Homo sapiens: one gene and its partner. The protein of the gene in region 1 interacts with the protein of each later gene in a pairwise test. Each region holds a gene or a part of one and is shown in the gene's direction. Other genes may lie near its edges.

Region 1 (3,650 bases):
CGGGAGGAGGAGCAGCTGCGGGAGCTGCTGGAGCAGCAGGCGGCCTCGGAGCAGCGCGGCCGCCAGCAGCGGGAACAGGTCTGTTTGGCTCACCGGGTCTTCATCAGCAGTGTCCTTCCTGGTCCATGGATGTTGGTGTGCTCCTAGCCACCTGCGCCCCGGGGTTGTCCCCATTCCCCAAAGGAAGACATTTGGGCTCCTGAGAGAGTGAGGGGCAGATGCCCCTCCTGGTTTTCCTTCTCCCTCCCTGGGCGAGATTTTTGGGGCTCTTCCTTTGTCCCCTGTCCGTTTGCTATTTAAATGTGGGTGTGTAAAAACTTCCAAACTGGCCGGAAGCAGTGGCTCACGCCTGTAATCATAGCACTTTGGGAGGCCGAGGCGGGCGGATTGCCTGAGCTCAGGAGTTTGAGACCAGCCTGGGCAACATGGCGAAACCCCGTCTCTGCTTAAAAATACAAAAATTAGCAGGGCGTGGTGGCGGGCGCCTGTAGTCCCAGCTACTTGGGAGGCTGAGGCAGGAGAATCGCTTGAATCCGGGAGATGGAGGTTGCAGTGAGCCAAGATCGCACCATTGCACTCCAGCAGCCTGCGTGACAAGAAGGAGACTCCGTCTCAAAAAAAAAAAAAAAAAAAAAAGAGAAAAAGAAAACTTCCAAACCCACCCCACAATAGTCAGGCAGCTCCCATGTCCTGTGCCCACCAGCTTCATCAATGATTAATATTCTTACATTCTTGTTTCATTATCTCCAATTTGTTCTCGTCCCCAGTTTTAAAAGCCAATCCCAGACATCATATGGTCTGTACATATGTTTAGAGTGTATCATTGACAGATAAGAAATCCTTTTAGGCTGGGCCAAGTGGCTCACACCTGTAATCCCAGTACTTGCGGGGTGGGGGGGGGGTACGGGGGGCGGGGCAAAGTGGGAGGATCGCTTGAGGCCAAGACTATGAGACCAGCCTGGCAATATTATAATAAGACACCGTTTCTGTGAAAAATAAAAATACAAAAATTAACCAGGCATGGTGGCATGTGCCTGTGGCCTCAGACTCAGAAGAGTGAGGTGGGAGGATCAATTGAGCCCAGAAGGTAGAGGCTGCAGTGAGCTGTGATTATAACATTGCACTCCAACCTGGGCGATAGAGCAAGACCCTGTCTCAAAAATAAAAAATTAATAAGTTCTTAGTATTGTCTTATTTCTGGTTAGTTTTTGTGTTTCCCAGACAGTCTCAAAATGCCAGTTAACAGGTGGCTTGTTTGAATGAAGTCCCCAAAGTTCAGTGTGATTGGCTGATACGTCTTGCCCATTGTTTTATCTCTGGTGGTTCCTACCCGCTGTGTCTTCCCCATACTGTTTATTGGAAAAATCCAGTCTTCTGTCCTATAGGCAGAGCATGGCTGATCGCATGCCTGTGGTGCCCTTGAACATGCCTCTGTTTCTGCAAGTGGGTGTTGGTTAGAGGGAGAGGTTTGATCGTATTCAGAAGTGCTTTAGTGCTTCCTGAGCCAGTGTTGGGAACCTCATCTCTGGTTGTCCCGACCTAATAAGATCACCCTAGTCTCTTTTTTTTTGCGAGACACAGTTTCGCTCTTGTTGCCCAGGCTGGAGTGCAATGGCGTGATCTTGGCTCACCGTAACCTCTGCCTCCCAGGTTCAAGCGATTCTCCTGTCTTAGCCTCCCCAGTAGCTGGGATTACAGGCATGCACCACCATGCCCGGGTAATTTTGTATTTTCAGTAGAGATGGGGTTTCTCCATGCTGGTCAGGCTGGTCTCGAACTCCTGACCTCAGGTGATCTGCCCGCCTTGGCCTCCCAAAGTGCTGGGATTACAGGTATGAGCCACCGCAGTTCGAGGCCAGCCTGGCCAACATGATGAAACCCCATCTCTACTAAAAATACAAAAAATTAGCTGGGCGTGGTGGCAGGCACCAGTAATCCCAGCTATTCGGGAGGCTGAGGCAGGAGAATTGCTTGAATCCGGGAGGTGGAGGTTGCAGCTCCCAGGAGCCAAGATCACACCACTGCACTCCAGCCTGGGCAACGGGAGCAGAACTCCATCTCAAAAAAAAGAATCTTTTATCTGAAGATTGTAACATCCATCAGTGGTCATTGCTTGGGTCAGTTACCATTATAGGTTGGAAAATGGTGACTTGTGATTTTGTCAGTTTTTTTCTTTGCAAGTGTCGTGTATGTTGGAATTTTATGAGGCTGGGTCCTAGGCCCTCATTTATCCTCAAAGATCACATATTTCTCCCAGGCCCTCTCTCCTGAGACAGAAATGTGCTCTTCTTCCTAGGGTACTGGCTACTTCATACTCCCTTCTCACCCAGATCCAGAAATCTCGGTCGCAGCCCCTTCTCCCTCTGTCCCAGGAGTCCAGACCCCCAGCTCCTCCTCCCTCAAACCCAGAAGTCCAGACCCCCAGATCCTCCTTCCTTAGATCCAGGAATCCAGGCCCCAGCCCCTCCTCCCTCTGACCCAGGAGTCTGGCTGACCTCAGCAACTCCCTTCTCCACACTGTTTGTCTTGCTGTCCCTTTGGTCACCAGGCCAGAGTCCTGGACTTTGCCCTGTACACTTCCCTGTCTCTCACCTCCAAGCCCGTCAACCACCATGTCCTATCCTTTCTGCTTCCTGATCCTCTCTGTCTAGTCCATCTATTTTTCAGCCCCACCGCCCAGGCCCCAGCTTAGGTCTCACCCTCATTGCTTGGAGGACTCCCGAGGCAGCTGCTCTCCACCCCTGTAACCCATCTCCCAGAGGGATGATTCCTAGCTCCTACCCCATCCTTTCAGTCCTTCTGAGGCTCCCCATATCCCCAGGTTGACCAAACCCCCCGTGAGCTGGACGAGCTGGCCTTCCCACTGTCCTCTCCCACCACGTTCTTCCCACCACCACATCCTCTTCCACCCTGGCTGGAGTTTGTCCCCCAGACTTCTTGTACTTTTCAACTTTCATGCATTTGTGCCAAGCCGCTTCCTCTGCCCAAAATGCTCTTCTAGCTCCTTTTATTTTCCCAGATCCAAATGCTCCCTGATTGTTTTGTTTTGTTTTGATTTTGAGACAGGGTCTCACTGTCGCCCAGGCTGGAGTGCAGTAGTGCAATCACTGCAGCCTCAACCTCTGGCTGACATTGTTCTTCATTCTGGGTTCCCACAGTCTCTGGATTTTACTGCCCTGATCTTTCCAACTGGCTGTGTTCCCACTTGGAGGACAGGGCCCAGACACAATCCACTTCTGCATCCACCGTATCACATAACATGAATATGTTTTGCATTCATTAATTTTCTTTCTTCTTTCCTTCCTTCCATCATTCCTTCCTTCCTTCCTTTTTGTTTCTCTTTCTCCTCCTTTCCTTTTCTTTCTTTTTCTTTCTCTTCCCTCCCTCCCTCTTTTCTTTCTCTCTCTCCTTCCTTCGTTCCTTCCCTCTTTCTCTCTTTCTTTCTTTTCTGTCTTTTCTCCTTTCCTTCCCTTTCGAGACAGTGTCTCCCTCTGTCACCCAGACTGGAACAGTGATGCAAACACAGCTCAGTGCAGCCTCAATCTCCCTGGCTCAAGCAATCCTCCCACCTCAGCCTCCCGAGTAGCTGGAACTACAGGCGTGCACTAACACACTCCACTAATTTTTTTGTTTTTTTGTAGAGATGGGCT
Region 2 (3,750 bases), on another chromosome or scaffold:
CCAGGATGGTCTCGATCTCCTGACCTCGTGATCCCCCCGCCTCGGCCTCCCAAAGTGCTGAGATTACAGGCATGAGCCACCGCGCTAGGCCGAAAGAATCTTCTTTCAATCAACGAACATTTACTTAAGTGGTACTATGTGTAAACACTGTAGGAACTGAGGCTCCAGCATTAAGCAAAATAACCACGATCCTTACCCTCACATGGGTAAGGATGCTGGGCCATTACTTACACACAGACACACACAAACACATACACACACGCACACGCCCAAGTGCCAGGAAGGAAAATGAAAGGGTCTTGACGTGCCAGTGGAGCAGAGGAAGGGTTGCAGATGTGTCATTCTCTCATTCCTCAAACATATGTACACTGTATTGTGCACATAGTCATTAGAAAAATCCCTTATTGAGGCCGGGCACAGTGGCTCACGACTGTAGTCCCAGCACTTTGGGAGACAGAGGCGGGCAGATCACTTGAGGTCAGGAGTTGGAGACCAGCCTGGTGAAACCCCATCTCTACTAAAAATACAAAAATTAGCGGGGCATGGTGGTACGCGCCTGTAATTCCAGCTACTCAGGAGGCTGAGGCAGGAGAATCGCTTGAACCTGGGAGGCGGAGGTTGCAGTGAGCCGAGATGGTACCACTGCACTCCAGTCTGGGTGACACAGCGAGACTCCATCTGCAAAAAGAAAAAAAAAAGAAAGAGAGAAAAATCCCTTATTGAGCAGGAAACATAGCTTATGCCCATAATCCTAGGAGTCGGGAGGCTGAGGTGAGAGGATCACCTGAGCCCAGTAGGTCAAGGCTGCAGTGATCCGTGATTCATTGCGCCACTGACTCCAGCCTGGACAACAGAGCCAGACCCCGTCTCAAAATAACAACAACAAATCAGAGAGAGAAAAGAGAAATCCCTATGTAGGTCTGCAACAAAATAAACACGGATGGCAGGTGTGGGGGGAGGACATGGAAACGCAATCGAGGACGCAAAGGTGCCCCACCCCAAGAAGGAGTAAACAGTATCTAGGCCAAGTTGGGGAGGGGAGGAAGTGAGGAGGAAAACATGGACGGGCGGTGGTGTTGGCCGGTGCAGGATGGGAGAGGAATTTGCTCCTAATACTGGCCTCCTGGGCCTTGGCTGGAGCATTTACGGCACTTCACAACTCTCAGACTGGGCGAGTGGCCATGAGGGGAAAACCAGTGCAAATTCCCCAGGCCCAATTGTCCGGAAGAAGACGAGGCAAGTCCGCGTAAAGATTTTTAGACGGTGTACCTTGGCTAGGGAACGGAGGGGCGAGGGAATTCGGGACCCAAATCCCCTCTAAGGCCCACATTAATAACTACCCCCAAGAGGTTGCAGCGCAACCACTACTGGAACGTGAAGTCCCCGGCACGCCCCAACAACAGGACCATTGGCCACGCCCCTAGGGGCGGGGCACTGCATGGAAAGCCCCGCCTTCGCCCTAAGGCTCCGCCTCTGACCTCTGCGCAGGCGTAGCTCAAATCTTTCCCGCCCTCTAGTCGTGCGCGGATCTGACGCCTGACGTAATTGCGTAGACGCCATTTTAGCCGGTCAGACAAGCACTGGACGTGGCGGCCATTTTGTTTTGGACACCGAGCAGGAGCTGGCGGCCGCTGCAGACGAAAGGCAGGAAAGGGCAGGCCGGGTGAGCAGACGGATCGGCCGACTAGACAGCCAACCAGCAACAACGAACTGAGCTCGCATACTACCGCTTACGCATCTAACCAACCGCCCATCTAGCTAACCCGAGCCCCTCCACCGTCAACTCAGGTTCGGCCGGTCCCCGGCCCGCCTGCCGGAGCCGTGGTGGCAGCCCCGGGAGGAGCACTGGCGTCTGTTTCCTTCGGTGAGTTTCGGTAGTGAGAAGGAGCCGGGGGAGGTGCGGTCTTGAGGAGCGGAAGGGGCCGGCGGACGCGGAAAGGGGGTGGTGGCATGTGGACATAGCTACGGTGTTGGAGCGTGGAGGCCCCGGGGAGGAGGCGGAGCCCCTGCGAAGGGGCGGGGGAGGGGCTGAACTGGAACCTGGTGGCGGGATTGATGGAGGTTGGGGTTTGATAGGATAAAAAGGAAACTTGGCGGGTAGAGCAGAAGTGGAAGTCTTGACAGGGCTTTGAGGATGGTAGGGAGATTAAGAAGTACAAGACTTTGAGGAATGTTGGAAATTAATGGCGGCTTTAGGGTTAAGTTTTGTGGAGGGCTCTTTGCGAGCTAATTCCCAGGTGAATTTAGAAAACCTTTCCTACTCCCCCAGATCGTCAGTTTCTTGTTAAAGTCCCTACTTGATTCTGGAGTTGAAAGCCACTTTTGAAACTAGGCATGCATATATATATGTATATATATACATACATATATATATATATTTTTTTTTGGGGGGGGACGGAGTTTCGCTCTTGTTGCCCAGGCTGGAGTGCAATGGCACGATCTCAGCTCACTACAACTTCCGCCTCCCGGGTTCAAGCGATTCTCCTGCCTCAGCCTCCGGAGTAGCTGGGATTACAGCCATGCGCCACCACGCCCGGCTAATTTTGTATTTTTAGTAGAGACATTTCTCCATGATGGTCAAGCTGGTCTCGAACTCCCAACCTCAGGTGATCCGCCCGCCTCGGCCTCCCAAAGTGCTGGGAAAACAGGCGTGAGCCACCGCGCCCGGCCCTGCCTGTATTTTCACTGTAGATCAGTGGTTCTCAACTTTAGCTGCACATTAGAAGCACCTAGGTAGCTTTCCCCCGACCCCACAATTGGTTCATTTCCAAACCTCATTACCAGAGATTGTGGTTTAATTGATCTAGGCCCAGATGTCTGTATTTTCTATTTTTTTAATTAATTTATATTTTTATAGAAACGGGGTCTTACCATGTTGCCCAGGCTGGTCTCGAGCTCCAGGGCTCAAGCATTCCTCCCGCCTTGGCCTCCCAAAGTGCTGAGATTACAGGCGTGAAGCACCGCGCCCGCCCTGTCCGGCCCTATGTTTTAAAAGCTCCTTGGATAAGTCATATGTAGTCAAGGTTGAAAATGACTGCTCTAGAGTAAAAGCCAAACTCGGCCCGGTGCGGTGGCTCACGCCTGTAATCCCAGCACTTTGGGAGGCCCAGGTGGGTGGATCAGGTGAGGTCAGGAGTTCAAGACCACCCTGGCCAACGTGGAGAAACCCCGTCTCTACTAAAAATAAAAAAAAATTAGCCGGGCATGGTGGCACGTGCCTGTAGTCCCAGCTACTCAGGAGGCTGAGGCAGGAGAATGGCTTGAACGGGGAGGCAGAGGTTGCAGTGAACTGAGATCACGCCTCTGCACTCCAGCCTGGGCGACAGAGCCAGACTCTGTCTCAAAAAAAAAAAAAAGCCAGACTCCATACTTTGATTGCTAGATTGGCTTCTGCCGTTTTTGAGAAATTCCCGGGTATTTTGTGGGCCTTGAAGTTTGTTTGTTTGTTTGGGGTTATTTGTTTGTTTTAAAGAGATGGGGTCTCAGGCCAGAGTGCAGTGGCATGATCACGGCTCTTTGCAGCCTCCAACCCCTGGGCTCTAGCGATTCTCCCACCTCAGCTCCCCTGAGTAGCTAGGACAACAGGTGCTGGCCACCATGCACCGCTAATTTTTTTTTTTTTTTTTCTTAGTAGAGACTGGGTCTCGCTTTGTTACCCAGGCTGGTCTCTAACTCCTGGCTTCAAACCATCCTGTGCCCTTGCCCTCCCAAAGTGTTAGGGTTACAGGCGGTGAACCACCATACCCAGCC

The links. The genes of interacting proteins can lie anywhere in the genome.
Region 2: the proteins of PHLDB3 (region 1) and CHTOP interact in binary tests that used the Homo sapiens proteins (3 or more experiments, as listed by UniProt).

What each region holds. Positions count from the first base shown.
Region 1 is NC_000019.10:43,498,162-43,501,811, reverse strand, and holds part of PHLDB3 (pleckstrin homology-like domain family B member 3), read left to right. Parts: coding exon 1-78; intron 79-3,650.
Region 2 is NC_000001.11:153,632,480-153,636,229, forward strand, and holds the start of CHTOP (chromatin target of PRMT1 protein), read left to right. Parts: upstream 1-1,586; 5' UTR 1,587-1,864; exon of another isoform or gene 1,865-1,882; intron 1,883-3,750. UniProt on the Homo sapiens protein: Plays an important role in the ligand-dependent activation of estrogen receptor target genes. May play a role in the silencing of fetal globin genes.